Regions from separate parts of the Homo sapiens genome. Here region 2 is linked to region 1. The links come from fine-mapping of genetic effects on gene expression. A gene starts in region 1. The other region holds a variant in brackets. All regions are shown on one strand. Distances are between the middles of the regions. Region 1 holds the start of MFN2 (mitofusin 2). Region 2 overlaps MFN2 (mitofusin 2).

The links.
Region 2: its variant is fine-mapped to the expression of MFN2 in whole blood (TOPMed, PIP above 0.99).

What each region holds. Positions count from the first base shown.
Region 1 is chr1:11,973,505-11,989,190 of GRCh38, reverse strand. It overlaps MFN2 (mitofusin 2), which reads right to left and starts at 8,747. Exons shown (of 19, transcript NM_014874.4): 1 at 8,707-8,747; 2 at 7,077-7,221; 3 at 1-26. The coding sequence starts at 22. It overlaps PLOD1 (procollagen-lysine,2-oxoglutarate 5-dioxygenase 1), which reads right to left. Exons shown (of 19, transcript NM_000302.4): 19 at 13,654-14,538. The coding sequence ends at 14,383. RefSeq lists an enhancer at 6,906-7,005 and silencers at 8,462-8,701, 8,872-9,131.
Region 2 is chr1:12,004,254-12,019,939 of GRCh38, reverse strand. MFN2 (mitofusin 2) reads right to left here. Exons shown (of 19, transcript NM_014874.4): 13 at 15,327-15,431; 14 at 15,013-15,115; 15 at 14,009-14,229; 16 at 13,247-13,402; 17 at 12,691-12,887; 18 at 10,214-10,348; 19 at 6,432-8,444. The coding sequence ends at 8,375. It overlaps MIIP (migration and invasion inhibitory protein), which reads right to left and starts at 442. Exons shown (of 10, transcript NM_021933.4): 1 at 388-442. RefSeq lists enhancers at 533-612, 1-655, 733-782, 10,703-11,367, 11,368-12,033 and 2 more and a silencer at 14,133-14,410. The variant C/G (reference allele first, on the strand shown) is at 7,479.

The DNA.
Region 1 (15,686 bases):
ATCGAGAGAAGAGCAGGGACATTGCGCTGCAAGAGAAGCTAACGTGAGCGAACCCAGCAACACCTACCTCGGGACATCCTGCTAGGGAGATGGCGGAATGCTTTGGGGAGAATCAAGAATATGGGGATCTCAGGTCACTGCAACCTCCAGGACTAGAACAAAGGACGGTGAGATAAGAACAGTGTCTCAGGCTGGGCGCGGTGGCTCACCCCTGTAATCTCAGAACTTTGGGAGGTTGAGGCAGGTGGATCACCTGAGGTCAGGAGTTCAAGACCAGCCTGGCCAACATGGTGAAACCCCCGTCTCTACTAAAAATACAGTAATTAGCCAGACCCAATGGCACACACCTGTAATCCCAGCTACTTGGGAGGCTGAGACAGGAGAATCACTTGAACCTGGGAGATGGAGGCTGCAATGAACCAAGATCATGCCATTGTACTCCAGCCTGGGTGACAGGGCGAGATTTTGTCTCAAAAAATAAAACAAAATTAGCATGACACAGTGGCATGCATCTGCAGTCCTAGCTACTTGGGAGTCTGAGGTGGGAGGGTCACTTGAGCCCAGGAGTTTCGGCTGCAGTGACCTATGATCAGTCCACTGCACTCTAGCCTGGGAGACAGAGCAAGACCACATAAAAACACTATTGGTTAGGGGCCAGGTTCAGTGGCTCATACCTATAATCCCAGCACTTTGAGAGGCCAAGGCAGGCAGATCACTTGAACTTTGGAGTTCGAGACAAGCCTAGGCAATGTAGGACCCCGTCTCTATTTAAAAAAAAAAAAAAAAACAGCCAGGCATGGTGGGTTATGCCTGTAATCCCAGCACTCTGGGAGGCTGAGGCAAGTGGATCACAAGGTCAGGAGTTCAAGACCAGCCTGGCCAACATGATGAAACCCCGTCTCTACTAAAAATACAAAAAAATATAGCCGGGTGTGGTGGTGGCCGCCTATAATCCCAGCTACTTGGGAGGCTGAGGCAGAGAATTGCTTGAACCTGGGAGGCGGAGGTTGCAGTGAGCCGAGATCGCACCACTGTACTCCAGCCTGGGTGACAGAGCCAGACCAAGTCTCAACAAAGAAAAACACACACACACACACACACACACAAAAACTATTGGTCTATTTTAGTATAGCACAGGTGTGCTACAGAAAATTTGGAAACTGAAGGGGAAAAAAACCCATAACCCCATCATTTTGTGATAAGCAATGTTAACATTTTATTTACTTATTTATTTTTTATTTTGAGACAAGATCTCGCTGTTACCTGGGCTGGAGTGCAGTGGCGCAATCACAGCTCACTGCAGCCTCAACCTCTTGGGTCCAAGCAATCCTCCCACCTCAGCCTCCTGAGTACATGAGACCACAGGCATGCACCACCACGCCCCACTAATTTTTTTAAAATTTTTTGTAGAGACAGGGTCTTCTTATGTTGCCCAGGCTGCTCCCAAACTCTTGGGCTCCAATGATCCTCTCACTTTGGATTCCCAAAGTGTTGGGATTAAAGTGCTGGGATTAAAGGCGTGAGCCACCATGCCCAGCCAACATTTTTTTTTTTTTTTTCTGAGACAGAGTCTTGCTCTATCGCTCAGGCTGGAGTGCTGTGGCATGATCTCGGCTCACTGCAACCACCACCTCCCGAGTTCAAGCTATTCTCCTGCCTCAGCCTCCCAAGCAACTGGGACTACAGGCACTCGCCACCATGCCCGGCTAATTTTTGTATTTTCAGTAGAGGTGGGGTTTCACCATGTTGGCCAGGTAGGTCTTGAACTCCTGACCTCAAATGATCCACCCACCTTGTCCTCCGAAAGTGCTGGGATTACAGGCATGAGCCACCACGCCCGGCCCAACATTTTGTTTATTATAATTTTTTTTTTTTTTTTGAGACAGAGTCTCACTTTTGTCACCCAGGCTGGGTGCAGTGGTGCAATCTCAGCTCACTACAACCTCCACCTCCCAGGTTCAAGCGATCCTCCTGCCTCACTCAGCCTCCTGAGTAGCTTGGAGTACGGGCATGTACCACCACACCCAGCTAATTTTTTTATTTTTCGTAGACAGGGCTTCACCATGTTGGCCAGGCTGGTCTCAAACTCCTGACCTCAAGTGATCCATCTGCTTCGGCCTCCCGAAGTGCTGGGAATACAGGCGTGAGCCACCGTACCCAGCCATATTATCACAGTCTATTTTTGTGTGACTGTCTCTCTTGCTCTCACTCAATCCTACATATCTTTGTAGCTTATCTTTTCATATAACAACATTTTAGAGGTCATGAGACTTGACTCCAAAGTCCTAGAGGTCTTTGGTCAAAGGTCAAAAGAGGCTGGGCATGGTGGCTCACACCTATAATCCCTGCACTTTGGGAGGCCCAGGCGGGTGGATCACTTGAGACCAGCCTGGCCAACATGGTGAAACCCCTTCTCTGCTAAAAATACAAAAATTAGCCAGGCATGGTGGCAGGCACCTGTAATCCCAGCTACTCGGGAGGCTGAGGCACGAGAATTGCTTGAACCTGGGAGCTGGAAGTTGCAGTGAGCTAAGATCGCGCCATTGCACTCCAGCCTGAGCAATAGAGCAAGACTCCATCTCAAAAAAAAAAAAAAAAAGATCAAAAAGAGGCGTACACACCAGAAGGAGTGCCCAGGGTAAGACTGGGAATTCCGACCCCAAAAGTGGACCCCTGCCAGGTCCCTCAGAGTTCCCACCACGGCGAAAGCTACTTCTTGAGCAGAGCCCACCAATCCCAGGAAGTCAAAGGGCAAAGGCCCTCCTGGATGAGGGGGTGTGTGCACAGCTGACTGTGCCTGGGTCTGTCACTGCCTCCCCAGCCACCCTAATCTTACTGCTCAGTTCTCCACCCAGCAGTAAGCTCACTCTCTCTAGATTGGAAATGAGGTGTTGCTCCCCAGCAAGCACACGTGAAAAACTTCCAAATGGGGCCAAAGTATGTTGCACAAGGTCCTGAAAAGCAGAAAGAACACCCGGAAGAGGTACATGAAGACCAAATGCCAAAACGGACTTTTAGTAACTAACCATCCCAAAGAGTGGGCAGAAGACAGACCGACCCAAAGCGGGATAGGGACCCACATGTGTGCCCAAACCAACAAGTTCTTGTGCAATGTTAATGATTCCTCTGGAGACAAGGGAAGGAAGTGACCCCACTTCCGTTTCTACATTCCTCCTCAGCATGACGCCACAGCTATGAGAGATGTTTTCTCAGCATGGAAGCCATATGTCCAGGGCTTAAAGACAGTACAGCTCTGAGAAAGGAAACTGCAAAGAAAATGCTACTCTCACTCTTCCAAAGCAGCAAAGGAGAGTGCGCTGAAATGAGGCTTGCCATGGCCTGGCAGATCAGACTGTTCGAGAAAGAGGGGATGTGGCAGGCACAAGAGGAAAGCCATCCAAAAGGAATAGAAAAGGGATCAGGGGTCAGGCACGGTGGCTCATGCCTGTAATCCCAGCACTTTGGGAGGCCGAGGCAGGCAGCTCACCTGAGGTCAGGAGTTCAAGACCAGTCTAGCCAACATGGTGAAACCCCGTCTCTATGAAAAATACAAAAAATTAGCTGGGTGTGGTGGCGCATGCCTGTAGTCCCAGCTACTCCAGAGGCCAAGGCAGGAGAATCACTTGAACCTGGGAGGTAGAATTTGCAGTGAGCCAAGATCTCGCCACTGTACTCCAGCCTGGGTGACAGAGCGAAGTCTCTCTCTTTAAAAAAAAAAAAAAAAAAAAAAAAAAAGGGATCAAGGATGGGGCATGATATAGCACTACCTATGACAGGTTTTGTAATCAGGCAGAGCTGGGTTCAAATTGTGACTACATTATTTCTGGGCTGCTTAAACTTAAGCAAGTTATTTCATCACAGAACCTTGGTTTCTTCATGTGTACAACAAACAAGACACCTACTGGAGAGAGAAACTGTCTCAAATTATCTTTTTTCTCTACTCTCACACCATAATCATCAACACAAGAGACTTCTGTGACCAAATGTGAGGGGGTTTCTTCCCCACACACCAACCAGCGGACAGCAGCTGGGTATCCTCTCATTCAGTTCCCATGCTGTCTACCTGGAGAGAGTGTCAGATCCCACAGGTTGAGGGCTCAGTCCCCAGGACTGCCCCGCCTCTCCACCACCACCCCTCAAACATACCAGTTGCAAGTCTGGGCCTCCAGAATTTCTCACCGACTGGCTTCAGGCTGGGGTTCCCATGACCCCCTCTTTGAGTTCAATTAATTTGATGGAGCAGCCTACCTAGCCCAGGGAAACACTTACTTACGTTTACCAGGTTATTATGAGGGATATCGCAAAGGATACAGATAAGGAGACGCTTAGGGCGAGGTATGGGGGAAGAGGCGTGTAGTTTCTGTGCCCTCCCTGAGCAGGCCTCTCTCTAGGAACCTCCGTGTGTTCAGCTATCCACAAGCTCCCTGAACTCTGTCCTCTTGGATTTTTATGGAAGCTTCATGACATCAGCATTCCTTCCCCCAGGATACAGGGTCCACCCCTCTCAGGGGAGGGTTTTAAGGCCCACAATCAGGTGGGGAAAGATTAGGGTGGAAGGAGAGCAGAAGGTCAGAGGCCTGCCCCTGAGGCCTAACACATCTAACATTATATCAAAAAACCATAACAAGGGCTGTGGATAGGAGTTATGAGCCTGGATCCGTGGATGAAAACCAATATCCTAATACCACAATACCATCTAAACTGTGAGAAGACTAAAGTTGATGACGCAAGCAACATGCTTCACTACAGTAAGAGCTAAAGGCAGCTTTACATGTTATAAAACAATAACAACAAACTCTACCAGCAAGATCACAAGACTCTCTCCATGAACACCCAGCCTTCAGGGAGGGCAGAGGCAACTCCGCCAACTCACACCACACACACCACTCCCTTACCCGCTATCACGGAGATCAAATAAACAGGTCAGCTGGGGAAGGATCAGCGATACCCCACTCCAGAAGTGACTTGCTGCAGGAAGCAAGTTCCCTGCCATCAGAAGCAGGTGCTTTTAAGTTCTGGTCAATGTTTGCAAGCCCAGGAGATATAAAACCAAAAGCATTAGTGCTCACTAACTGCAAGACTCGACAGCGTGTACACCAGTAGAAGCTTGGGAGCTCCAGGTTACAAGGTCTGCTGGGAGTTCAGCCGGTCCAGGAGCCTCCCTGCTCTCACTAATACCCAGCCTGCAGCTGCATCCAAACCCCTGGCGTAAAACCTACTGTCAACCCCTCCAAACTCTGCCTGATTTATCTGGCTCTGCTAACTTGCAAGCTGAGATTCCACATCTGTGTTGCATGAGCTGCTTTCTGCCTGGAATCCTCCTTCCTTTTCCACCCATTTGGCATACTCCTACTGTCCTTCTAGACCCAACTCAAGTGTCACCCGCTCCATGAAGCCTCCTCTGATGCCTCATAGAGAACAAACAACATCACAGACTTCTGGTTTTTATCACATCCTGTGTTCCCCAATTATCTCAAGGCTTTGACTGCTGACTCCCTACTCCTCCAGGGTGATGCAGGGCAGCTGGGTTCCTCCTCTGCCTCTGGAAAGCCTTGATAATCTCTGCTTCACCACAGACCTTGCCACAGGCACGTGGGGACCATCCTGCAAGCATAGCCTGAGAGCCCAGCTCCAACATCAGTGACACACTAAGCGTCACACTTCAAGCTGTGACTGCCTCATAAGTGCTCTGGAGATTACTGTTTTGGATAGTTTCTGGCAGCACTTCCCAAAGCGTGGTCCACAGAACTCGACTTGCACCCAATATCCCATGTAAAGAAGGTTCAATAGTAGAATCAGTTTGTAAAACACCATATGCTAGGCCAGGCGCGGTGGCTCACGCCTGTAATCCCAGCACTCTGGGAGGCCGAGGTGGGTAGATCACAAGGTCAGGAGTTCGAGACCATCCTGGCTAACACGGTGAAACCCCATCTCTACTAAAACTACAAAAAATTAGCCAGGCATGGCAGCATGCACCTGTAGTACAGCTACTCGGGAGGCTGAGGCAGGAGGATAGTGTGAACCTGGGAGGCAGAGCTTGCAGTGAGCCAAGATCACGCCACTGCAAGATCGCGCCACTGCACTCCAGCCTGGGTGACAGAGCAAGACTCTGTCTCAAAAAAAACAAAAAACAAACAAACAAACAAAAAACACCATATGCTACCATTTTCCTCAGTGGAGCACGTGAGCACAGCAAAAGAGTTTGGGAAGGAAGCCTTGTTGTAAAGACACTAGTTTAACTGTGTTGAATTCAGCATTTCACAAATATAATCAATGAAAAAACCCTTCTGTGTAATAGCTTTTAAAATCCCGAGGATCACACTTTAGGGAAAAGCCCACTCTTTCTGGTACTCTCCTGCCCCTACCCCTAAAAAGTGCCAGGGCACAGTATTAATAAATATTAACCTAAGACCAGAAATGAACCCAGTTCTAAATGGAAACTGCTATTAGCCCTCCAAGGTGGTCAACAGCTTTGCCTCAACCTAGGCTATTCGTTGAGGAGTATTAGGTATCTTGGGTGTAGAGACAGCAGTAGCAAAATTCACTGCAAGGTGTGTTTGGATCCCAAGCACAGTCCCTGAATCCACACCACCTCCTTACCCAGTGTTATGTACAGCAACTCCTAGCAGGGAAAATAAAATGGATCCACGGATCGTCTGCTGGCACAACTGGAAAAGAGGAGAAGCTGAGAAATCGAAACAAAAAGAGTATACAGGGTAAAGGGGACAGAGCAGAGTCTTAAAAGAGCAGTGACAAGGAGCCAACCTGTGCTGGGCCGAGATGGGGAAGAGCCAGCACAGCAGAGACCAAATGAGGGAGACAGAGACTAACTCTTCAGGGAGCCCAAGAGATCCCAGCCACTTCTGAACTGTCAACTTTTAAACAGGCTCTCTAAGCAACCAGCGAAATCCTTCACGGAAGTAAAAGATACGGTAGTTTTTCAACACAAGTTAGAAAGCTGTGGCTCTATACAAAGAGGATGCCATTCAAGAGACTTGCCACCAGAGGTCCAGGAGAGCACACCCCTGTCCACTCAGCTCAAATCCAGGGTGCCAGAAGTCACAGCTACTACTTACTTTTTTGGATGGTGAGAGATCTTCACAGGGTAGGCATCATGGACATGGCTGAAGTCCAAAAGACAAAAAGATTCTGAGTTCTCTTCTGTCCTGTCTCAGGTTGAGGTTGGCTATTGATTGACTGTGTTGACTCCACCAGTCCTGACTTATTAGAAAAGAAAAGGGAGATGGATCCGGTGTCCAAAAAAAAAAAACACTGGTGTACAAAACATGTCTAATCAGGTTTCAAGCCAAACAAACTCATCCCTGAGGGAAGCTTACTCATTGAGGTATTGGGGAGTTGCGCTGGCATGTGAGGAAGTGCCCTGGGGAAAAAAACGCAGAGGTGTGGGACCAATCCTGACTGTGCACACGTATTCCGCCATGTGCGGGTTTGAGGCACCACGGAGGTCCCTGCAGGAGCCCTGGGAAAGGTACATCCAGAGAGGGGAGAAGAGGACAGAGCAAAACTAGGAACAAAACTGGGCTTGAGGACTGTGGAACAGCTGACTATTGAGGAACAGAAGAACTGACTGAAAGCCAATGTGTTCAGCTACTGTAAAGTATCTCACTTAATTCTCTATTCTGTGGGACAGAGGGCTGGAATACTTGAAGATTTGTCTAAGCTGGGATCTGAAATATTAGCTCCCTTTGACTCCAAAGCTCCTGGAGTGCAGCAGCGCGATCTCGGCTCAACCTCCGCCTCCCGGGTTCAAGCGATTCTCCTGCCTCAGCCTCCTGAGTAGATGGGATTACAGGCGTGTGCCAGCAAGCCCGGCTAGTTTTTGGTTTTAGCACAGACGGGGTTTCACCATGTTGGCCAGGCTGGTCTCCAACTCCTGACCTCAGGTGATCCGCCCGCCTCAGCCTCCCAAAGTGCTGGGATTACAGGTGTGATCCACTGCGACCGGCCTCCTTCCTTTTTTAACTACATTGAGCTGCCTTCCTCCCCCAAGCCCCAAACCTTGGGACACCAGAGGCGGATAACCAGAGCCCTTTTCTGGGTAGAAAAGAGATAACCAGAGCCCTTTTCTGGGTAGAAGAGAGAGAGATGATTGAGAATTTAAAGAGGGCAATGAAGGATTACGAGAGGGGGTAACGGGCAGTTCTGCCTTCGTGCGTCTTAACAGCTATTTATTCAACATTTTCTGTGTGCCTTCTCTGTGTGTGTCAGGCGCCACGTTAGAAATGGATAAGAAACAGTCCTGCCCTCCAGGGCCTTACAGTCCGGTGAGAAGTCATATAAGTAAACAGGGCTGAACGAGAAGGCAGTAACTGCCCAAAGTGGGGATGGCAGGGCGCTCCCGCGGTGAACGTGGACACCTATCAGGTGCTGAGTAAATGCTGGCAAAATGAAGACAGGATGAAAAATAGAGAAGGGGCAGGGGTAGAACATGGCCGTGAAGGGTGGAAAGGCGGGGGCGATGAGAAGCTACAGGGGACCCCACCGACCAGTCCCAGGTCCCGTGGCCCGCCCCCTCCTCTCAGGGCCGGGGAGGGCCCGGCGGCGAGGCCGGAGAGTGGGGACCCCGCTTGACTGCATCCCAGACCCCCGTGGCCCCAGAATCCCGTCGGCCCACGCCGAGCTGCTCAGGACTCGCCGGGCCGGGCCGGGCCAGTCCCCGCCACCCCGGCTTGCTCGCCCTCTCACCTTCACCTTCCCGGCCTCGCGGCGGCCATCACACTCACTACGTCACCAGCGAGCGCCACCCCAGGGGGAGGCGGGAGGAGGGAAGTGGATAAGCGCGTCACCAGTCGCCTCAGATTGCCCCTCGACCCGGGTGAGCTGGTGGACCCTGAGCCCAGCCGGCTCGCCCCGCCTACTCCTTACGCCTCTGCTGCCCCGCGACTCGGCGCTTCGAGCGGCGTCTCAGCGCGCCACTCCTCCGCGCGCCACTCCTCCGCCGGCGCGTCCCAAGCGGACGACGCAGAGGCTCGGACTCCCACTGCATCATGGGGGCTGTAGTTCCGGTGGGCGTCGGCCGGAGCTGGGGGGGCGGGGCAAAGCGGGGCGGAGCCTCAAGCTGTCAAGGGGCGAAAAACCAAGGGCGTGGAGTAGAGGTTCCCGCTTTTTCGCCGGTTGTCCTAGAGCCTGACCCTGGGGCCTCTGCCAGCTCTGGAATCCAGATTTGCATTCTGTAATCTTAGAGGAGTGTTCTCTAGAGGGCCAGGCCTAGGGTGAAGTGACTCATCGGGCAGACAGAAGCGAGCATGGGCCTGCTGCCCTTCAGTCGCCTTTGAGGAAAGAAGAGCAGCAACAACGGCGAATCAATGCCAGTGACTGAACTGCGTCTCTAACATCCACCGCTGTATTTAACGTCCACAGCAGTCCCAGGAGAGGGAGAGGAGAGGTTACCCAAGCTCACATGGTTACCCAGATCACCGGGCCCCAGTGATGCGGCAGACACTACTAGGAAACCGCAGCAAACAGATCCCTTGCAGGACTTGGCCTCCGCAGAGAAGGCTCCAAGCCTGAGCGCGCCAGAACAGTAGGCACTAGCCACGTGTGGCTCTCGAGTCCTGAGCCAGTGCAAACGGAGATGCGCTATAAGACTTAGGACAAAAAAGGCTGTTAAACTATCTCAATTTTTAGGAAAAAAAAATATCGACCGGGCGCGGTGGCTCAAGCCTGTAATTCCAGCATTTTAGGAGGGCGAGGCGGGTGCATCGGGAGTTCAAGACCAGCCTGGCCAACATGGTGAAACCCCGTCTGTACTAAAAATACAAAAATTAGCCAGGCATGATAGTGCACTCGGGAGGAAGAGGCAGGAGAATCGCTTGAACACGGGCGGTGGAGGTTGCAGTGAGCCGAGATCATGCCACTGCACTCCAGCCTGGGCAACAGAGACTCCGTCTCAAAAAAGAAAAAAAAAATCTATCTTTGAGCCAGAGTCTCACTCTCACTCAAGCTGGAGTGCAGTGGTGCAATCACGGCTCACTGCAGCCTCGAACTCCTGGGCTCAAGTAATCCTCCCACCTCACTCAGCCTCCCAAGTAGCTGACCACAGATGCTGCAGCCATGCCTAGTATTTATCTTTTGTAGACATGGGGAAGCATTTCACTTTGTTACCCAGGCTGGTGTCCTGAACTCCTGGACTCCTGGAGTCAAGCAATCTTCTCCTGCCTCGGCTTCCCAAAATGCCGGGTTACAGGTACCTGCCACAGTGCAGGGCTATTAGCCCATTACTATTTATATGCTGACTACATGTTGAAGTGATAATATTTTGGGTCATTTGGGTTAAATACATTACTAAGATTAATTGCACCTGTTTCTTTTTAAAAATGTCGCTACTAGAAAATTTAAAATTACATAAGTAGCTTGCATTTGTGGGTCAAACTGTAATTCTGTGGGATGGTGCTGCTCTATAACCATGGTAGAACAACCTCAATTTATTGCCACAAACAACCTCAAGAGGCAAATCAGTACTCTGATATAGAAGTGACTGGTTTATCAGTCTCATGACGATGGCCAAAGGGAGCTGTCCTGCCCACACTGCCCTCTGAGTAGCCTAGTGCCCCGCGGGTCTGACTGTGGACTGTGGGGCCACACGCAGACTCAGCCTCAGGGTGTAGACAGGGCCCTGTCTGGGATGTAGCGTGCCTTGGGGCCTCAGCTGCTAGCTGCCTGGTACTGGGTCGGATTGTTTCCTCCTCCACAATCTCTGGACTCCCTAAGGAGAGGAACTCTAAATTCCACTTCCATTCTCTGAGGGCAGGAACTATAAATTCCATTTCCTCTTTTTTTTTTTTTTTCTTTTTTTTTGAGAAAGAGTCTCGCTCTCACTCTGTTGCCCAGACTGGAGCTCAGTGGCACCATCTTGGCTCACCGCAACCTCCGCCTCAGGCAATTCTCCCGCCTCAGTCTCCCCACTAGCTGGGATTACAGGCGTGCACCACCATGCCTGGCTAATTTTTGTATTTTTAGTAGAGATGGGGTTTCACCATGTTGGCCAGGCTGGTCTCAAACTCCTGACCTCAGGTGATCCACCCGCCTCAGCCTCCCAAAGTGCTGGGATTACAGGTGTGAGCCACCACGCCCAGCCTTCCTTTTCCTTTTTAGCAGAATCTTGCCCGTCAGGTGAAAGCCTGGATGTTCTCTCTCCTAAACATCTCCCCTGCCCACTCCCTCCTCTTCCCTAAATTTCCCTGCAAGCATTGGTCTAGGTCCTGGTCACTTGCCTGGACTGCTGTAGGAACCTCTGAATCCATTCCCAGGCATTTAGTCTTGTACTCTGCCCAGCAGCTGGGCTTTATCTCTGAAACACATCTGCATACTTGCCCAGCAAGTAGAGGAAATCTCAGTTTGGAGATATGTTTCAACCCATTAACATGTGTTTCTCATTGAGATGGCTGAATCCTCGTTTCAACCCTCGGGATGACAAAACTCTCCTAGCAGTGCTGAGTGTTATTGGGAATGGGTGCAGAGCACACTGATGTACAACTCCAGGAGACCTTTCTTTCTTACGTTTTTGTTTTTTTTTTTAAGACAAGAGTCTTGCTCTCTCACCCAGGCTGGAGTGCAGTGGCACAATCTCAACTCACTACAACCTCTGCCTCCCGGGTTCAAGCGATTCTCGTGCTGCAGCCTCCTGAGTAGTTGGGTTTACAGGCATGTGCCATAAAGCCCACCTTATTTTTGTATTTTTAATAGAGACAGGGTTTTGCCATGTTGGCCATGCTGGTTGAGAATTCCTGGCCTCAAGTGATCCTACCACCTCAGCCTCCCAAAGCGCTGGGATTACAGGCATGAGCCACTGCACCCGGTCCATATTACTTTTTGTTGTTGTTGTTGTTGACAGGTTATTGCTCTGTCACCCACGCTGGAGTGTAGTGGTGCAATCTTGGCTCACTGCAACCTCCACCTCCCAGGTTCAAGTGATTCTCCCAGCTCAGCCTCCCAAGTAGCTGGGATTACAGGCACCTGCCACCACACCTGGCTAATTTTTGTATTTTTTTGTAGAGATGGGGGTTTTGCCATGTTGGCCAGGCTGGTCTCAAACTCTTGACCACAAGTGATCCACCCGCCTCAGCCTCCCAAAGTACTGGGATTACAGATGTGAGCCACAGCATCCGGCCCCCCATGTTACCTATTTTGTTTGACTTTTTCATGGTGAAGATGAGTTTGTAATCAGAAAAAAGTTAACAGTTAAAAACAACCCTATGCCGGGCACAGTGGCTCACACCTGTAATGCCAGCACTTTGGGAGGCCGAGGCAGGTGGATCATCTGAGGTCAGGAGTTGGAGACCACCGTGGCCAACATGGTGAAACCTCATATCTACTAAAAATACAAAAACTAGCTGGGCGTGGTGGCGGGTGCCTGTAATCCCAGCTACTCGGGAAGCTGAGGCACGAGAATTGCTTGAACCCGGGAGGCAGAGGTTGCAGTGAGCCGAGATCATGCCATTGCACTCCAGCCTGGGCGACAGAGTGAGACTCCATCTCAAAAACAAAAACAAAAATAACCCTAACATACACAAACACACACACAGGCTTGTGTCGGCACAAACCAGCTCAAGAACGTTCAAAAAACAGATTAGACATGGTGGCTTTCAGAGAGAGGAACTGAGCAGCTGGGGGGAAAGGATGACAGAAAGATTAAGATTTGTGCTGTTTGAATTTACAATGAGTCAATTTTGAAAATGAAAAGACTAAAAAATCTTTTTTTTTTTTTAATTGAGATGGAGTCTTGCTCTGTCACCCAGACTGGAGTGCAGTGGCCCAATCTTGGCTCATTGCAACCTCCACCACCTGGGTTCAAGCGATTCTCCTGCCTCAGCCTCCCGAGTAGCTGGGATTACAGGCGCATGCCAACACAACCGGCTGATTTTTTCATATTATTAGTAGAGACAGGGTTTCGCCACGTTGCCCAGGCTGGTCTCAAACTCCTGACCTCAGGTAATCCGCCTGCCTCAGCCTAAGTGCTGGGATTACAGGTGTGAGCCACTGTGCCTGGCCTCAAAAATCTTTTTTAAAAGACTTTCAGGCCTGGGATGGTGGCTCACGCCTGTAATCCAGTACTTTGGGAGGCCGAGGCGGATGGATCACCTGAGGTCAGGAGTTCGAGACCAGCCTGGCCAACACGGTGAAATGAAACCCCGTTTCTACAAAAAATACAAAAATGTGTCAGGCATGGATACCTATAATCCCAGCTACTCAGGGGTCGAGAGGCTAGCATGACCTTTCTTAAAGGCTCTAAAAAGAGGGCTCTTGGCCGGGCACGGTGGCTCATGCCTGTAATCCCAGCACTTTGGGAGGCCGAGGTGGGTGGATCATCTGAGGTCAGGAGTTCAAGACCAGCCAGACCAACCTGGTGAAACCCTTTCTTTAATAAAAAAACAAAAATTAGCCAGGCGTGGTGATGGGTGCCTGTAGCCCCAGCTGCTCGGAAGGCTGAGGCAGGAGAATTACTTGAACCCAGGAGGCGGGGGTTGCAGAAAGCGGGGATAGCGTCATTGCACTCCAGCCTGGAAGACAGAGTGAGACTCTGTCTCAAAAAAAGAAAAAAAAAAAAAAAGAGGGCTCTTAAAACCTCTCTCCCTGCAGACACTCACACCAAGACACACACACACCCACTCGCCCTGAGCATCTTCCCTTCAGTGGTTTAAATGACCTTTAATAGAAACTCTCCAGTTTCTGACGGTCTGTCCCTCTCTTCAGAGGCATCCAGGACAGGGTGACCCAGTGTGGTGTGTGGACCTGTCACTCCCCTCCCCACAGGCAAGTAGAAGATCGAGCTGTGCACAGATGCCTCTTCTGTCTCCCAAGAGGTTCTCTGGAGTCGCTGTCTCCAGGGGACTACGGTTTGCTCTCATGACCAGCCATGGAGGCAGAAGTCCCAGACTCAGGGCAGCCCTTGGAGTCTGATCCAGGTGTCTTTACCCCAAAACTTGAAGCAGAAGTCCCTGGTGCAACACCTGTGCCTGGGAGAAGCTCTGGCCATGGCTTCTCACCCAGACAGTCTTTCTGGGCAACTTGGGGAAGCCCCTGTTCTGCTCAAGTCTCACCCCATGGAAGAGGTGGGGGAAGGGGGCCTTGGTTTTTCAGGAAGACAGGTTGGAGAGCACGAGTCACTACAAAGCAGTAAAAGTGAATGGTGTCTCCAGGGGCTGGGTCCAGAACACCACGGAGAGCCCCAGCCATAAAGGTGTGTTCCGCCTCTGGCCTGCAGGAATCTCTTTGAATCTCTTTGATTGGTGGCTCCAAGAGCAATGGGAAGTCAACAGCCAGGAGGCTGGACTGGGTTCCCTGGGACCCCGAGGTCCCAGAGGCTGCTGGGCAGTGGTTGTCGGCAAAGAAGAAAGGTCCAAGAGGGTCAGGCCTGGCCAATTAGGGATCGACGAAGGAGACTGCGATGTAGCGGGTGCCCCTGGTGGTGGGGAGCCCCTCATGGTAATGCGTGAGTCGTCCAGGGTGCATGAGGGTCCAGCCCTTCCTTGGGGCTCGGATGGAACAGTTGTAGCGCAGGAACCGACAGCCCCCGCCCTGGGAGACAGAAAGCATCAGTGGCCTTTCCCCACCGCCCCCCTGCCCGTCTGTTCTCCCGTCATGATCTCCTGTCATGGCCAAGTGGCCCTCAGCACTGCCTGCCTGGGGATGCCTTCTGGAGTGACAGCCACAAGCGCTGCTAAGGAAGACACTAAATGAAGAGTAGTGGCCAGGAGTGGTGGCTCACGCCTGTAATCCCAGCACTTTGGCAGGCCAAGGCGGGTGGACCACCTGAGGTCAGGAGTTCAAGACCAGCATGGCCAACATGGTGAGACCCCATCTCTACTAAAAATACAAAAACCAGCTGGGTGTAGCAGCGCACGCCTGTAATCCCAGCTATTCGGGAAGCTGAGACAGAATCACTTGAACCCAGGAGGCAGTGAGCCGAGATCGCGCCACTGTACTCCAGCCTGGGCAACAGAATGAGACTGTCTCAAAAAAAAAAAAACCCAAAGAGTAAGTGATCAAGAGCTCTGTCCTTGGAGTCAGGCAGCCCTGGGCAGACATCACCTCCACTCTTTACTAACTGTGACCAACCTGAGCTTCAGTTTCCCCTTCTGTAAAATGAGGGTTAAACAGAACAGGATAGTGAGAATTAAATGAGATGTTACAATTGAGAGCTGAGGATCAAGCTTCCCAACCTCACCACTATAGACACTTTGCTGTGGAAGGCTGTCCCGGGCATCTCTGACTTCTACCCACTAGATGCCAGTAGCCCCTCATAGTTGTAAAAACCAATTATGTCTCCAGGTACTGCCAATGTCCCTTGCAGGCCACAGTTGCTCCTGGTTGAGAATCCTTGGATTAGGGATGCCTGATATGTTTGTTGTAAGCTCTCAAAAAATTATAGCTCCAGCCTGGGCAACATAGTGAAACCCCATCTCTAAAAGCAAGAAAAAAAATTAGCTGGCCATGGTGGCACACGCCTGTGGTCCCAACTACTTGGGGGGGCTGAGGTGGGAGGATTGCTTGGGCCCAGGAGGTTGAGGCTGCAGTGAACTGTGATCATGCCACTACACTCCAGCCTGGGTGACAGAGCAAGACCCTGTCTCGAAAAAGAAAAAAAAAAGGATTATAGCTGTTTTTATGAGTGTTCTCCACAGCACCCAGCCCAGGGCTAAGTTCAAAAAACCTCTTTTTGTTTT
Region 2 (15,686 bases), 31 kb before region 1:
AGGGGCCAACTGTTTGATCCGCAGGACAAAGATCCCGGCCCCCACCCCTAACTGGCCAAGTGGCTCTGGGCCACACCCCTATAGTCAGAGGGTCGCCGTTTTCGCACGGGGTCAAAGGGCACAGCAGGCCTTGCCCTCCCCTGGCCCCGGCCGCGCTTTGGAAAGGGAAAAGCTGAGCGGAGACACCGGGAAAGCGACGCTCCAGAAACACCGGGGCCGCAGAAGTAACAGAGGGCGAGCGGGCGGACGCCGAGGCGGGACCCCCGCAGAGGCAGATGCAGCCTACCCTTCTTTTCCACTGCGGCCCCCGAGCCCCTCGCGGGAATGCACGTGGGGCCTCCTGCCGAGCCCTTCCGCCCCACCCCAGTCCTGCCGCCCAGCACTCACCCGGCAGAATCCCCTAGCATGCGCCGCCGTAGCAGCCGCAGCCGCCTGAGCCGTTCCAGGGGCCTCGGCCGGCCGTCTTGATTGGTCAGGTGAGGGGCAGGGCCGGGACGTCTGGTGAGCGTTACTCGGCGATCCGAAGTGTCAGTTTCAGCGTGGGGGCGGGACTAAGAGCGGAGCTACACAACCGATTGGTCAATTTTCGAGGCCGGTGCGGAGGTCGATTCCTGGAATGGGGCGGGCCCCGGAAGGGCGAGCTCCGATTGGTCAGCTGCGGGACTGGATACGCTGAGTTCAGCAGCGGCAGTTTCAGTCAGGCTGGGCGGCCTAGGCTCGGCGCAGGCGGCAGTCCGGAGCGGCGGGGTAGGTGGGGCAGGCGGCTGGCTACTCATTGTACTCATCGTTTCATACTTTTCTTTTTTTTTTTTTTTTTGGAGACGGAGTCTCACTCTGTTGCCCAGGCTGGAGTGCAGTGGCGCGATCTCGGCTCACCACAATCTCTGCCTCCCGAGTTCAAGCGATTGATTCTCCTGCCTCAGCCTCCCGAGTAGCTGGGACTACAGGCGAGCGCCACCATGCCCGGCTTTTTTTTTTTTTTTTTTTTTTTTTTTTTTTTTTTTTGTATTTTTAGTAGAGACAGGGTTTCACTATGTTGGCCAGGCTGGTCTCGAACTCCTGACCTCGTGATCCGCCCGCCCCGGCCTCCCAAAATGCTGGGATTACAGGCATGAGCCACTGCGCCCGGCCTGCTTTATACTTTCATTCAGGTTTTTAGCGAGTGCCCGCTTTGCGCCAGAAGATAAGGACTACACAGTAAACAAGAAAGTGTAGTATTGGGGCCGGCCGCGGTTGCTCACGCCAGTAAACCTAAAAATACAAAAATTAGCCGGGCGAGGTGGCCGGCGCCTGTAATCCCAGCTACTAGGGAGGCTGAGGCAGGAGAATCGCTTGAACCCAGCTACTAGGGAGGCAGAGATTGCAGTGAACCGAGATCGCGCCACTGCACTCCAGCCTGGATGACAGAGCAAGACGCAAGACTCCATCTCAAAAAAGAAAAAAAAAAAAAAGATACCCAGCCTGGGCAACATGGCAAAACCCCGTCTCTACAAAAAATGAGCCAGGCACGTACCTGTAGTCCAGCTACTCGGGAGGCTGAGATGGGAGGATCACCTGAGTCCAAGAGGCTGAGGCTGTGGTGAGCTTTGATTGCACCACTGCACTCCACCCTGACTGAGAGACCCTGTCTCAATAAATAAATTAATTTAAAAAAGAAAGAAAGTGTGGTATTGGCGTCCAGGTAGACAAATGGATCAATGCAACAGAATAGAGTTCCGATATGTGAGCAATTAATTTTTGACAAAAATGAAAGTGCAATTCAGTGGAGAAAGGATAATGCCTTCGGCCCGGGGCGGTGGCTCACGCCTGTAATCCCAGCGCTTTGGGATGCCGAGGTGGGCAGATGGCTTGAGGTAAGGAGTTACAGCCCAGCGACACCCAGCACCCCCCCCAAAAAAATTTATTTTATCAATAATGTGTGTGGAAACTTGGGAAAACAAGAAGAGATGGTGTCTTCAACAAATGTTGTAGGTATAATTGGATATCCACACACTCATCCTAAAAAAAAAAAAAAGAAACCCATATGCAAAAATTAACCTAGAATGGATCATAGATCTAGTTGTGAAACCTAAACTATATAACTTAGAAAAACTGGGGCCGGGCGCAGTGGCCCACGCCTGTAATCCCAGCACTTTGGGAGGCCGAGGCGGGTGGATCACCTGAGGTCAGGAGTTCAAGATCAGCTTGGGCAACATGGCGAAACCCCGTCTCTACTAAAAATACAAAAATTGGCTGGGCGCGGTGGCTTACGTCTGTAATCCCAGCACTTTGGGAGGTCCAGGCAGGCGGATCACCTGAGGTCGGGAGTTCCAGACCAGCCTGACCAACATGGAGAAACCCCGTCTCTACTAAAAATACAAAATTAGCCGGGCATGGTGGCGCATACCTGTAATCCCAGCTGCTCGGGAGGCTGAGGCAGGAGAATCGCTTGAACCCGGGAGGCGGAGGTCGTGGTGAGCCAAAATCGCACCATTGCACTCCAGCCTGGGCAACAAGAGTGAAACTCTGTCTCAAATTAAAAAAAAAAAAAAAAAAGAATGAAAAGAAGATAGGTAGCCCCTCTACCTCCAGAAGAGCCGAGGGTGATAACACCAGGCACCGAGCTAGCAGGAAGCCCTCCGACTCAAGAAGATGGCTGATCCTTGGCAGGAATGCATGGATTATGCAGTAACTCTAGCAAGATGAGCTGGAGAGGTAGTTTGTGATGCTCTAAAAAATGAAATGAGGCCGGGCACGACGTCTCAGGCCTGTAATCCCAGCACTTTGGGAGGCCAAGGCGGGCGGATCAGTTGAGGTCAGGAATTTGAAACCAGCCTGGCTAACATGGTGAAACCCCGTCTCTATTAAAAATAGAAAAAAATTAGCCGGGTGTGGTGGTGGGCACCTGTAATCCCAGCTACTCGAGAGGCTGAGGCAGGAGAATGGCTTGAACCTGGGAGGCGGAGGTTGCAGTGAGCCGCGATTGTGCCACGGCACTCCAGCCTGGGTGACAGAGTAAGACTGTCTCAAAAAAAAAAAAAAAAAAAACTATATATATATATGAACCCACATTCACTACTGGTGGGGATATAAGACAGTATAACCACTTCACAAAATCTGTAGAAGTTAAACATAAATTTACCATATGGCCCAGCAAGTCCAGCCTGAGATATCTACCTACAAAAAATGAAAACATCTGCCTACACAGAGATTTGAACACTAATGTTCCTAGCAGAAATACGCATAATGTTGTCTAGAAGATCACCAGGGTGGCTAAATAGTAGAAAGGAGCACTTTATTGTTGATACTTGTTTGCAAACCAGGAAGAGATGGTTTGCAGCATGCACTGAAGGTGCTCTCTTCCAAGAGAGAAAGGACAGGTTGGGTTTTATGCCTCACAGGGCCCATATTCATACATATTTAGCAGGTTTGAGGGAAAAGCTGTATACATATTTATGAGAGGAGGTGAGCTCATGTGCATTGGCTAAACAGGTTGTTCACAGCTTCTGTAAGCTGGCTGAAACTGGCTTAAGTTCTGCAGTTGCTTATCAGAAAAGAATGTTTATTGGCTGGGTGTGATGGCTCATGCCTGTAGTTCCGGCACTCTGGGAGGCTGGGGCAGGAGGATCACTTGAGCTTGGGAATTAGAGGCCAGCCTGGGCAACACAGTAAGATCCCATCTATTTTTTTTTTTTTTTTTTGAGACGGGGTCTCATTCTGTTGCCTAGGTTGGAGTGCAGTGATGCAATCTCGGCTCACTGCAGCCTCCACCTCCTGGGTTCAAGTGATTCTCCTACCTCAGCCCCCGGAATAGCTGGGACTACCAGTGCACACCACCATGCTGGGCTAATTTTTGTATTTTTTGTAGAGACAGGGTTTTGCCAGATTGCCCAGGCTGGTCTCAAACTCATGAATTCAAGCGATCCTCTCACCTCAGCCTCCCAAAGTGCTGGGATTACAGGCATGAGGCACTGTGCCCAGCCAACATACATTCTCTATTTGAAAAATTAAATTAAAAAAAGAAAAAGAATATTTGTGTCCAGACATGGTGGCTCACACCTATAATCCCAGCACTTTGGGAGGCCAAGGTGTGAGGATCATTTGAGATCAGGAGTTCGAAACCAGCCTGAGTAACATAGTGAGATCCCTCGTCTCTACAAAAAAACAAAAAATTATCCGGGCATGGTGGCGCACACTTTTAATCCCAGCTATTCGGGAGGCTAAGGTGAGAGGATCACTTGAGTCTGGGAGGTCAAGTCTGCAGTGAGCCGTGATTGCGCCACTGCACTCCAGCCAACAAAAACCTACCTCAAAAAAAAAAAAAAAGTTTGTCAGACCGGTCCCCTGTGTAATCAGAGGCATAAGGGTTTGGTTTGTAAATCAAGACTTGAGATAATTTGCCTGATGGCTCCTGATGTTAGGGAGTTTAGCGAGTATGTTGTTTTTCTTTGTAACTGAAAAAGGTTACTAATCAGTGAGTGAGATTTTTGTTGTTGTTGTTGTTGTTTTGAGAGGGAGCCTCCCTCTGTTGCCAGGCTGGAGCGCAATGGCGTGATCTCGGCTCATTGCAACCCCCACCTCCCAGGTTTAAGCAATTCTCCTGCCTCAGCCACCCTAGTATCTGGGATTACAGGTGCACGCCACCAAGCCTGGCTAATTTTTGTATTTCTAGTAGAGATGGGGTTTCACCATGTTGGCCAGGCTGGTCTTGAACTCCTGACCTCGTGATCCGCCCACCTCCCAAAAGTGTTGGGATTACAGGCGTGAGCCATCGCGTCTGGCCCCAGGGGCAGATTTTTATCCACCTTAGTCACTGCTATATCTCCAGTGCTTAGAACCATGCTTAGCACATAGTAAGTGCACAAATATTTTGCTGAATTAATGAACTTCCTCATTTGAGGAAATTAGGGAAAATAGACCATTGGATTTTGAGATTAGGGCTCATGCGTATGAAATGTCTGACATACTAAACTCTCAAAGTTCGCTGTTCTTATCTCAAGCCTAAGAGTCCCACTTAGACACAGGAAACCATCCACTTGAGGACACGGTGAACAACTTAGCTGACATCTGCGAGGAGGGCCCTGCTTCTGAGGCCACATTATGAAGCCAGATGCTCTCCGAGAGAGCTGCCTGGGCTGTCACCCCAGTGCTTGGGACACAGTGGAACATTCCTGACTACCTACTTTTTGTGATTAAATAGGGACATTGTTACCAGAGGGCTAAAACTTCCAGCCTCTCAGATTCGCCAGTGGACAGATGAGGTAGTCAGAGAAAGCACAGGAATGAGGCTGGCCTTGACTGGGAATAACTAAGCAGCATTTGCATAAGGCAAGAAGGCCCTTTTTCAAACTATGGCTCATCACCCGGGATGATGCTGTCGTGAACAATTTAGTGGGTTGTACATAACATCTTGTTAATGACAGAAACTACTTGTTTTGTGGATTGCAAAAAAAAAAAAGGTAATGATTCATTTTTTTTTTGTTACCTGAGAAAGTCTTTGGCTGCTGCCTTGAAACAGCCACAAGATGGCGAGGATAGGCGGGGACAAGGCAGGAACAGGAACCTAGATCCGGGCTGATGGTTATGATGGAGGTGAGGAAACTGGGCAGGGTCAACAGACTTGGAAGACAGCAGGTGACAGATTTGGTGCAGCACGTGTGACCGTGGACTCGAGGGTGATGCCCCAAGTGTGTAGCCTGGGAATCTGGAAGGATGAGGTTGCTATCAGCTGAGCTGTGGCCTCTGTGGGCGAGCAGGGCGGACACTGGGCAGCACCAGAGCCAAGAGGACAGCTGTAGGGGCGGGGAAACTGACTGACTACCCCTGTATCTACTCCTGAGGACCCTTAAAAAAAAAAAGAAAAAAAAGCGGTGGCTCACACCTGTAATGCCAGCACTTTGGGAGACCGAGGCAGGTGGGTCACAAGGTCAGGAGTTTGAGACCAGTATGGCCAAGATGATGAAACCCTGTCTCTACTAAAATACCAAAATTAGCCAGGCCTGGTGGTCGGCGCCTGTAATCCCAGCTGCTTGGGAGGCTGAGGCAGAGAACTGCTTGAACCCGGGAGGCGGAGCTTGCAGCGAGCCGAGATCGTGCCACTGCACTCCAGCCTGGGCGACAGAGCGTGACTCCATCTCAAAAAAGAAAAAAAAAAAAAAGAATAGTGGCAACCAAATTCTCAGAAGGCAAAGCAGGATGGAACAGTGAGTCATTTACTTTTTAAGTGAAAAATGGTCTGGAGTTACAGAGAAATCTGTAAAGAAATCAGTCTCGATTTCCTGATCCTTAAAGATCAGTTAAACCATCTGTTCTTTTGAGAGTATCAAATTCCTTCCAAGAATAAGGAGCCAGATTATAGTGGGAACTTCCCCAAAGTTATGGTCACTTCAGAATACAGCTGGCCATGTCAAAGAGGAGTTTGTACAAGAACCCAAAAAGACAGATCTCACAAAGGATTTCCAACTAGGTTTTATTTTAGTTTCCAATATTATGAGCAATGATACAGGAGTAACTCAAGCAAATACATCACCTTAAATACATCAGAGAAAACTCACTGTGTCAGCACGTCTTGCGCTCCAGCAAATGAACATAAAAACAACAATGTCAGCAGCATTAAAGTGCTTTTGGCCATACTTCTTTCAGAAAGGGTCTCTCCCTCAGTGGTATAAATTTAATTTTACGTATTGAAGAAGCTCAAAATTTCATTCATTCCCCAGGGGCTACATTGAAAAAAAATTCATGTTTACGCTAAAGAATTTTTTTTTTTCAAAAAGAGCACAAAATCCATTGGAATTGTGTGACAGTGATTTTCCCTGACATGCTGTGAAGTGGCCCCTGTCCATTCAGGCCCGGCACACGCCGGGAACATCCACCCACAGCATGTCCACCTGGCAGAGTCCATCACTTCGCCCCACACAACAGGACAGACTGAGGGCTTTAAATACAAGCAGGTATGTGAACAGGACATCACCTGTGATGTGGCCACCAAACAGTGCACAGAGGCTACCAACTCATTTCCTCAAAGATGAGTGATGGCTGGGCTGCTGGGCCCCTGCCTTGTGGGCTGCTTTTTGGGAGAGGTGTTGCTTATTTCTAGGAAGCGATCCAACTTGTGCCACACAGGATTTGTCACCCAAACTGCTTTTCTCACACAGTCAACACCTTGGTGACAGGCATCTGCCCCCACTTCAACCAGTAACAATCCCAAAACTCAACATCAGCATAAAGACAAGGGGGTCAGTCGAAGGTTCTGGAGATCAGGGAGGGTGGAAAGATGGACACTGGGTTTTCCACATTGTCCCTTGGCCAACTGCAGTCACTGGCACAGGAAATTTAGTCCAGGGCACTTGGGACAAGGTTGGGGGTGGGGTGGAAACATGTCTCTTAAAGGGCACAACAGGGATGCAATCAAGCCTAGTGGGTGGGGGCTCTCAGACCCATGAGCCCCTCGCAGAACGAGGCCAAGTGGACGGCCCATTCTCCAGCTGTCCTGTGTGGGG[C/G]CCATGCACCTCAGCCAGCCACCAACGTCCCCACCTTCCACCATCCATCCTTCTACTACATCCTTCAACCACCTAGACCATGCCATCTTCCAAAACAGATCTACACAAAACAGGCCTGCACAAGTCCAGGACTGACACTAAAGCAAAGGACACAATAATGAGAAGAGAGGCAAGTCCCTCCTTGTCCCAGTGACTGCCACCTGCTCTGCCAGCTCCCCATACATCCAACAGCCCTCCCCTCTGAGCTACTCCCACTCCTCCAGCTGCCTCAGCAGCATCCTTTCTACCACCCCCAGCACAGGGCCCGCCTCAGCCTAAGCCCAGGGGTAACTGAGCCTCACCACCAAGACGTGTCTGAGGCTCTGCAAATGGGATGAAGCACTGAGCCAACAGGCGAGATGGACACACACAAGCCACAGTCCTTCTGGGACAGACTCTCTGGGAAGAAACTCCAATCGTCCCTTACACCTGCAGGTGTGCTGGGCTGCAAGGAGGGCAGGTGCGCACAGGCTGGAGGAAGGTGGGGGTGTCTGTGTGATACCCTCAAAGGCTTCCATGAGGCATTGTGCAATGCTGAGATCCTGAGGCCTTATCAAGCAATCAAATGAACCAGAGAAAGCTGGAAAAAGCCTCAACTTAACTCCTTGGTACCATGCTGTCCATAGCTGTCGCTGAAAGTGTCCTTTGGGGGTATGAGCCAGCTCTTCCAGCAACAGCAGGCAAAGGTGGGGGAAAATAAGTAGTGCTGGAGGGCTCAAAATGGTACGAGACTGGGTGCTTCATTCTCTTGGCAGTGGCCAGGGGGCAGGAGCCACACGTGCCCCTGGGGGAGCCCACATGGCACTTAGGGCTGGCAGCACCGCCCCTCTCCACGCAGACTCCGCCTCAGGTGCCCACTATCTGCTGGGCTGCAGGTACTGGTGTGTGAACATGTTGAGCTCACTGTCCAACCAACCGGCTTTATTCCTGCAAAGAAATGGTTCTTTTGTAACCATGATAGCTGATGATAGGCAGTATTAGGACTACCCGCCAGGCACCATCCTAAGGACGCTTGACACACACCCTTACATCATCCTCCAACAATCGTGTTTATCCCTGTCTCACAGATGGGGAAAAGGAGGCCCAGAGGGGTTAAATAACTTCCCAAGGCCACACGGCTAATAAGCCAGGGAGCTACAAGTTAGGCTTTTCTGATTCTCAAGCCCTGTGTTTCCTTCACCCAGGACCATGTGCAAGTCCCTGAGCTGTCGGGAACTCAGTTTCCCTGCTTGCCAAGCAAGGGGTTGAGGTGCTGACAGGAGACCCTTTCCAGGTTCAGCTGTGTCACTGTGGCTGACAAGCAGCAGTTCCCCCCATTCCCCCTTTCTGAGAGTCCCCAGAGGGCAAGCAGTGTGTCCCTAGGAAGCAGCTGTCCCCAGGTGGGGGTGCGGGGGGGGCACATCCGCAGTCGAGGGCAGGGAAAGCCCAGTGATCCGGTGAGGGTTGGAGCTGACACCCTCTGATCCATCTCCCCTCTGGCTCTGCCACCCTGCAGACTCTGACGTCAGGGGCGAGGGCAGGAAGTGCAGGGTCCCCGTGTGCTGATGCTATCATGGGCTAGGCAGGCCGAGGACTTCTGCAGGGTCCCCGTGTGCTGATGTTATCATGAGCTGGGCAGGCCGAGGACTTTTGCAGGGCACTTTTACATTCAGTCATGCAGCTGTGTCATGAAATCTTACTCCCATTTTACAGATGAAAATAATGAGACACAGGAGAGTTAAGAGCTTGGGCCAAACATGAGTGGCTGGAGAGAACCCAGGACTCCAGACTCCTCAGACTGATGTTCTTTCCAGCAAATTATTAATGAAAGCTCCACAGAGACCCCATGGAGATCTGAGTTCCAATCCCAGCTCTGCCAGTCCCCAGCCAAGTAACCAGCTTCTCTGTGGGTAAATGGGGGGCTATGCCCTCTTCATGGGTCCAAAGAGTGGCAGGTAAGGAGAATCAGAGTGCGGGGGCTGCTGGAGCCAAGTACACCTGGGCTCCCCTCCTAGCCTGGCCATTTTTTGAGATGCCAGACAAGTTCCCCAACATTTCTATGTAGAAAATGGAGAAATAGGGAAGACTGAGTGAAATAGCACATGTTAAGCGCTGTAGGCCCTGCGGTTCAGCACAGGGCGCTGTGAACTGCAGTCTCGCAGTACTGTGATGCCATCATGCCTTCAACTGCAAGTGCCTTGAAGGCAGCGACGCTGTGTCTTGTTGAGCCTCCAGCACCATCTGGCATCCATGAGGTACGTGGTACACATCCATTTTTTTTTTCTTTTTGAGACAGAGTTTTGCTCTTGTCGCCCAGGCTGGAGTGCAATGGCATAATCTCGGCTCACTGCAACCTCCGCCTTCTGGGTTCAAGCCATTCTCCTGCCTCAGCCTGTCGAGTGGCTGGGATTACAAGCACACACCACCACGACCAGCTAATCTTTGTATTTTTAGTAGAGACGGGGTTTCACCATGTTGGTCAGGCTAGTCTCAAACTCCTGACCTCAGGTGATCTACCTGCCTCAGCCTCCCAAAGTGCTGGGATTATAGGCGTCAGCCACCGTGCCCAGCCCATGGTACACATCTAACACGAATGAGCTAAATCCCCACCAGAAAAATTTGTGTCCACACCCAAGACGCAAGCCCAGCAGCTGAGCCCCAGTGTGCCTGGGCTGCACCCTGGAGCCCTAACCTTTGGCCACACGGGCCAGCCTCACCTGAGCAGCTTTGCTTTGCTCTGAAGTGAGTCAAGAACCTCAATTTTCTTGTTCATGGCGGCAATTTCCTGCTCCAGGTTCTCCCGGGTGACGTCAACTTGCTGACACAGATGAGCAAAGGTCCCAGACAGTTCCCTGGGGAGGAGAGAGAAGGGACCCAGTTGGGGTGTGTGGAGCAAGATGCCACTGGTGGCTTAGCCCACCCACAGTAGGGAGCAGCTGGGCCTGTCTATATCCCTGCCAGCAGCTCTGCCCTGAGCCAGGCCTGGTTTGGCAGAATCTCCTACACCCTGCTGAGACTGAATAATCATAACAACCAAACACACTCAGCATCACCACGGCCTGAGAAGCAACAGCACAGAGCTGTGCACCCTGGTTTGGGCACAAGAGATCCTGACTCTGCTGCTCATCAGCCGAGTAGCAGAGGACACGTCACTATTTTTCAAATCTCAGTTTCTTGATTTTGAAAAAGGAGATGGCCCTCTCCCTCTCCCGCTCCCTCTCCCTCTCCCCACGGTCTCCCTCTCCCTCTCTTTCCACGGTCTCCCTCTGATGCCGAGCCGAAGCTGGACTGTACTGCCGCCATCTCTGCTCACTGCAACCTCCCTGCCTGATTCTCCTGCCTCAACCTGCCCAGTGCCTGCGACTGCAGGCGCGCGCCGCCACGCCTGACTGGTTTTCGTATTTTTTTGGTGGAGATGGGGTTTCGCTGTGTTGGCCGCGCTGGTCTCCAGCTCCTAACCGGCAGTGATCTGCCAGCCTCGGCCTCCCGAGGTGCCGGGATTGCAGATGGAGTCTCGTTCACTCAGTGCTCAATGTTGCCCAGGCAGTGGCATGATCTCAGCTCGCTACAACCTCCACCTCCCAGCCGCCTGCCTTGGCCTCCCAAAGTGCCGAGATTGCAGCCTCTGCCCGGCCGCCACCCCGTCTGAGAAGTGAGGAGCGTCTCTGCCTGGCCGCCCATCGTCTGGGATGTGAGGAGCCCCTCTGCCCGGCTGCCCACTCTGGGAAGTGAGGAGCACCTCTTCCCGGCCGCCATCCCATCTAGGAAGTGGGGAGCGCCTCTGCCCCACCACCCCGTCTGGGATGTGAGGAGCGCCTCTGCCCAGCCACAACCCCGTCTAGGAGGTGAGGAGCGTCTCTGCCCGGCAGCCGCCCCGTCTGAGAAGTGAGGAGCCCCTCCGCCAGGCAGCCGCCCCCGTCTGGGAAGTAAGCGTCTCCGCCTAGCAGCCGCCCCGTCCGGGAGGTGGGGGGTCAGTCCCCGCCCGGCCAGCCGCCCCGTCCGGGAGGGAGGTGGGGGGGGTCAGCCCCCGCCCGGCCAGCCACCCCGTCCGGGAGGGAGGTGGGGGCGCCTCCGCCCGGCCGCCGCCCCATCCGGGAGGTGGGGGGCGCCTCTGCCCAACCACCCCTTCTGGGAAGTGAGGAGCCCCTCTGCCCGGCCACCACCCCGTCTGGGAGGTGTACCCAACAGCTCATTGAGAACGGGCCATGGTGACGATGGCGGTTTTGTCGAATAGAAAAGGGGGAAATGTGGGGAAAAGATAGAGAAATCAGATTGTTGCTGTGTCTGTGTAGAAAGAAGTAGACATAGGAGACTCCATTTTGTTCTGTACTAAGAAAAATTCTTCTGCCTTGGGATGCTGTTGATCTATGACCTTACCCCCAACCTGGTGCTCTCTGAAACATGTGCTGTGTCCACTCAGGGTTAAATGGATTAAGGGCGGTGCAAGGTGTGCTTTGTTAAACAGATGCTTGAAGGCAGCATGCTTGTCAAGAGTCATCACCACTCCCTAATCTCAAGTACCCAGGGACACAAACACTGCGGAAGGCCCCAGGGTCCTCTGCCTAGGAAAACCAGAGACCTTTGTTCACTTGTTTATCTGCTGACCTTCCCTCCACTATTGTCCTATGACCCTGCCAAAACACCCAAGAATGATCAATTAAAAAAAAAAGAAAGAAAGAAAAAGGAGATGGCTATAAGACAACATCTACCTCCAAGAGTCAGAGAAATAATTAGGTGCAAAATGTCTAGAGCAAAGGGTCTGCCACACACAATAAAAAAAAGGAAGCGAGGATATTCATCCCCACCACCCCAGATTAGGCAATAGATTCCCACCTGACCTAAGATGTGCACGAAGATCAGGCTGGGTTCAAAAACTTCAAAACTACATCCACAGCCCAAGCTCTTCAAGGCAACCTCTAAAACTCCTACTAGGAATATCTCTTGCCTTCCCATTTCTTCCTCACCAAGGGGCCCAGAGGCCTACCCCGTCCCAGCCCAAGACGCAAAGTGTCCCTGGGAGACCCCTCTCCCCATGACTGGCCTCAAAGCTGGCCCTGCACACCTGAAGGCCCAGGGTCTACGATGCTTAGGACCCAGTGGCTTCCAGGCCACGTGGGAAGAGAGATGGGGAAGGGAGATGGGGCTGACCCTGCCTAAAGGAAGTCCCCTGCTGGGGTCCGACAGGGCCACTCACTGCTGGACTTGGTGGCTGCAGTTGGAGCCAGTGTAGCTGATGACAAGCTGCAGCTTCTCGCTGGCATGCTCCACAAACTGGCGCTTGAAGGCCCTCTCCTTGGCCTTGGTGGTCCAGGTCAGACGCTCATAGACGTAGAGGAGGCCATAGAGCCCAAAGGAGAGGGCAATGAGCCGCCAGCCCACTGCCTTCCACACCTGCAGAGCACATGGTCAGCCTGGAGTGCAGCCTCTCTGTGGCCCACCCTCCTCTGGGGCCCATCACTACCAGGGCCATCTGAAGGGCCCCAGCCAAGGAGCCTTCATGTTTCTACTCTGAGTTCCTCTTTCAATGTCTCCTTTGATCCCACCGAGGCCAGAAGGTCTGGGACCATGTCCAGCAGGAAGTGAGGGAAACTTGGTGAGGGAGTAAGCGCTCCCCATGCAATCACAGAGGAGAAAGTATGCAGTGGACTGTGGAGTGTGGCCCAATGCAGGGGCCACAGCAGGAACCTAGCCCTCAGGCCCCGCCCACCTGCCCTCCGCCCCCACCTTCCCGAGCAGAACTGGTCACTGACCACTCCTCCAACAACAAGAATGCCCATGGAGGTCCTGGATGTCAAGGAGGCCAGGCCGGTAACCATGGAAACCATGAACTCCTCCTGGGTGAGCGAGCCCTGTGGCAGTGGGGGCATGCTGGGGTTGGCTGGCGTCAGAGGGATGGGACGCTGGACCTGAGGAGAGAAACATGAGAGGGGTGAGGGGGACGTATTGAGTCTCTCATTCACGTGAACCCTCAGTGTTGCCCTAGTCTGGGGAACAGGGACACAGAGTGGCTCTTCAATTTCCAAAAGGCAAAAAGGGGACAACTAGCTTCAGATGTAGCAGAGGAGACCCTCAGGTGAGCACCACGGGACGTGCAAAATGTGAGCAGGAGCCATCCTGACCCGCCTGGCAGCTTCCCCGAGTGTGGGATGTGTACAGAGGGCAGTACATGTGACAACTCAAGTGGTTTAGAGATGAATGTTTTTAAAATCTGAACTTTAAAATAGTCGTATGTAGGTGGTTATTTTTAAAGTCGTCTATTTTTAATAGTTACATACTTACTTTAATGTGTATTAGAGAAAAATACTAGCATCTGTCATTTCACAAATATCACTGCTTAGAACAAATCCAGGTCAATCAGTAGCAAAAATTCTGTCTGTGGTGTACTGTGTGGTGGGGCACACCACCACAGCTGCTGACCTTAGGGAACCCCCGTTTTAGAATGGTTCCCGTGTCTGGAGGCAGGGTACAGACTGACCCCCCACAATGCCCTTGAGGTGAGGAACTTTGCTTGCCTGGTCATTGTAGCCCATCAAGGCCCGACGGCTGTTCTTGGGGCCCAGGAACCTATTCACCAGCATGGTCCATCCGAGAGAGAAATGGAACTCAATGTCTTCCTGGAAGTCAGCACACAGCTTGTCACAGTTTAGGTCATAGTTGAGGGAGAAGCACTGGCGTGGGACCAGCATGTCTATCTGACTCCGCACAGACACAGGAAGGAGGGGTTTCAAGCCATCTGTCAGGAAGAGAAATGGAGGAAAAGCTTATCAGCTCAGCCCTGCACCACAGCGGCACCAAGCCTTGGAGACAGGGCTCTACCAGCTACTGCCAGGGATGCTGAACAGCTTTGCCTGGGAACCACACCCCAGTCAAGTTGGCCCGTGAGACTGAGCATGCCTCACTTGAGGCCAGCTCTCCCAGGCAAGTGTGGACTCAGATGCCATACTGCTAACACTTATGCCTCACGTGGACTTAAAGGAGCAGGCCCAATTCTCAGCCTAGGGTAGACCCATGTAGTAGAACAAGATGGGCTCCCCAACCCTGTGTACAGAATGAGTTCACAAGGCCAGGGCCGGTGGCTCATGCCTGTAATCCTAGCACTTTGGAAGGCCAAGGCAGATAGATCACTTGAGGTCAGGAGTTAGAGACCAGCCTGGCCAACGTGGCAAAACCCCATCTCTACTAAAAATACAAAAAAATTAGCCAGGTGTGGTGGTCACGCCTGTAGTCGCAGCTACTCGGGACGCTGGAGCAGAAGAATCGCTTGAACCTCGGTGGCAGAGGTTGCAGTGAGCCAAGATCATGCCACTGCACTCCAGCCTGGGTTACGGAGTGCGACTCTGTCTCAAAAAGCAAACAAGAATGAGTTCAGAACATGTACCCAGAACCTGAAGGTATCGAGTTGAATCATCATGAAAAGTGACAGATAAGGAAAGTCCTGATTTCTTTAGCTTGGCCTCCGCATCTGATCTTTGGGCAGCCCAGGGCCACAGCTGCCCAGTTCCCCATGGGCACTAACCTATCATGTCCTGCTGCATGGTCTGCAGGGAGTTGGTGATGGCCGTGGAGCAGCGGTCAGACATGTTTCGACCCAGTCCTTCCTCTATGTGGCGGTGCAGCTCCTGCCACCAGAAGAGGGAAGTTAAGAGAAGCATGTCCATCAAAATTCCCTTCAGGCCACATCCACCAGGTGACCCCAGAAGGCTGACGGAAGCCTGGGCCTTGTCTCTGTGGCTTCTACTGTCACTGCTGGGGGGCCCTGACCCAGACCAACAGGGGTTGAATCACTTTTGGGGGCCTCCTGCCAAGAGGACCTGTTGCTCCATGACTCACATTCTTATAAACCTTGAGGACTACTGGAGAAGGGTGGAAGTCCATCTGGTAATCGTCCACCAGTACAGAGAGGCGCCTGATCTCCTCGGCCATTGCAGTCGACACCTACAGCAAAAGGAAGCACACTGTTAAGTATCAAGGAAGACCAAAGTTCACTCCTGCAGCACCAGGAGAGATCCTAGCAGATGGCACATCCTTCCTCTCAAACCAGCAGCCTCCTCAGCTCCTCTATGGAATTAAAGCCTCTGAAGTGAGAGGGTCTGGGAAACTGGCTGATCAAACGCCCACATGATCTGTGGAGGTCCAGAGGAAAGGGAACATGCCCAGCATCACACAACCCGACAATGGAACCCAAACGGC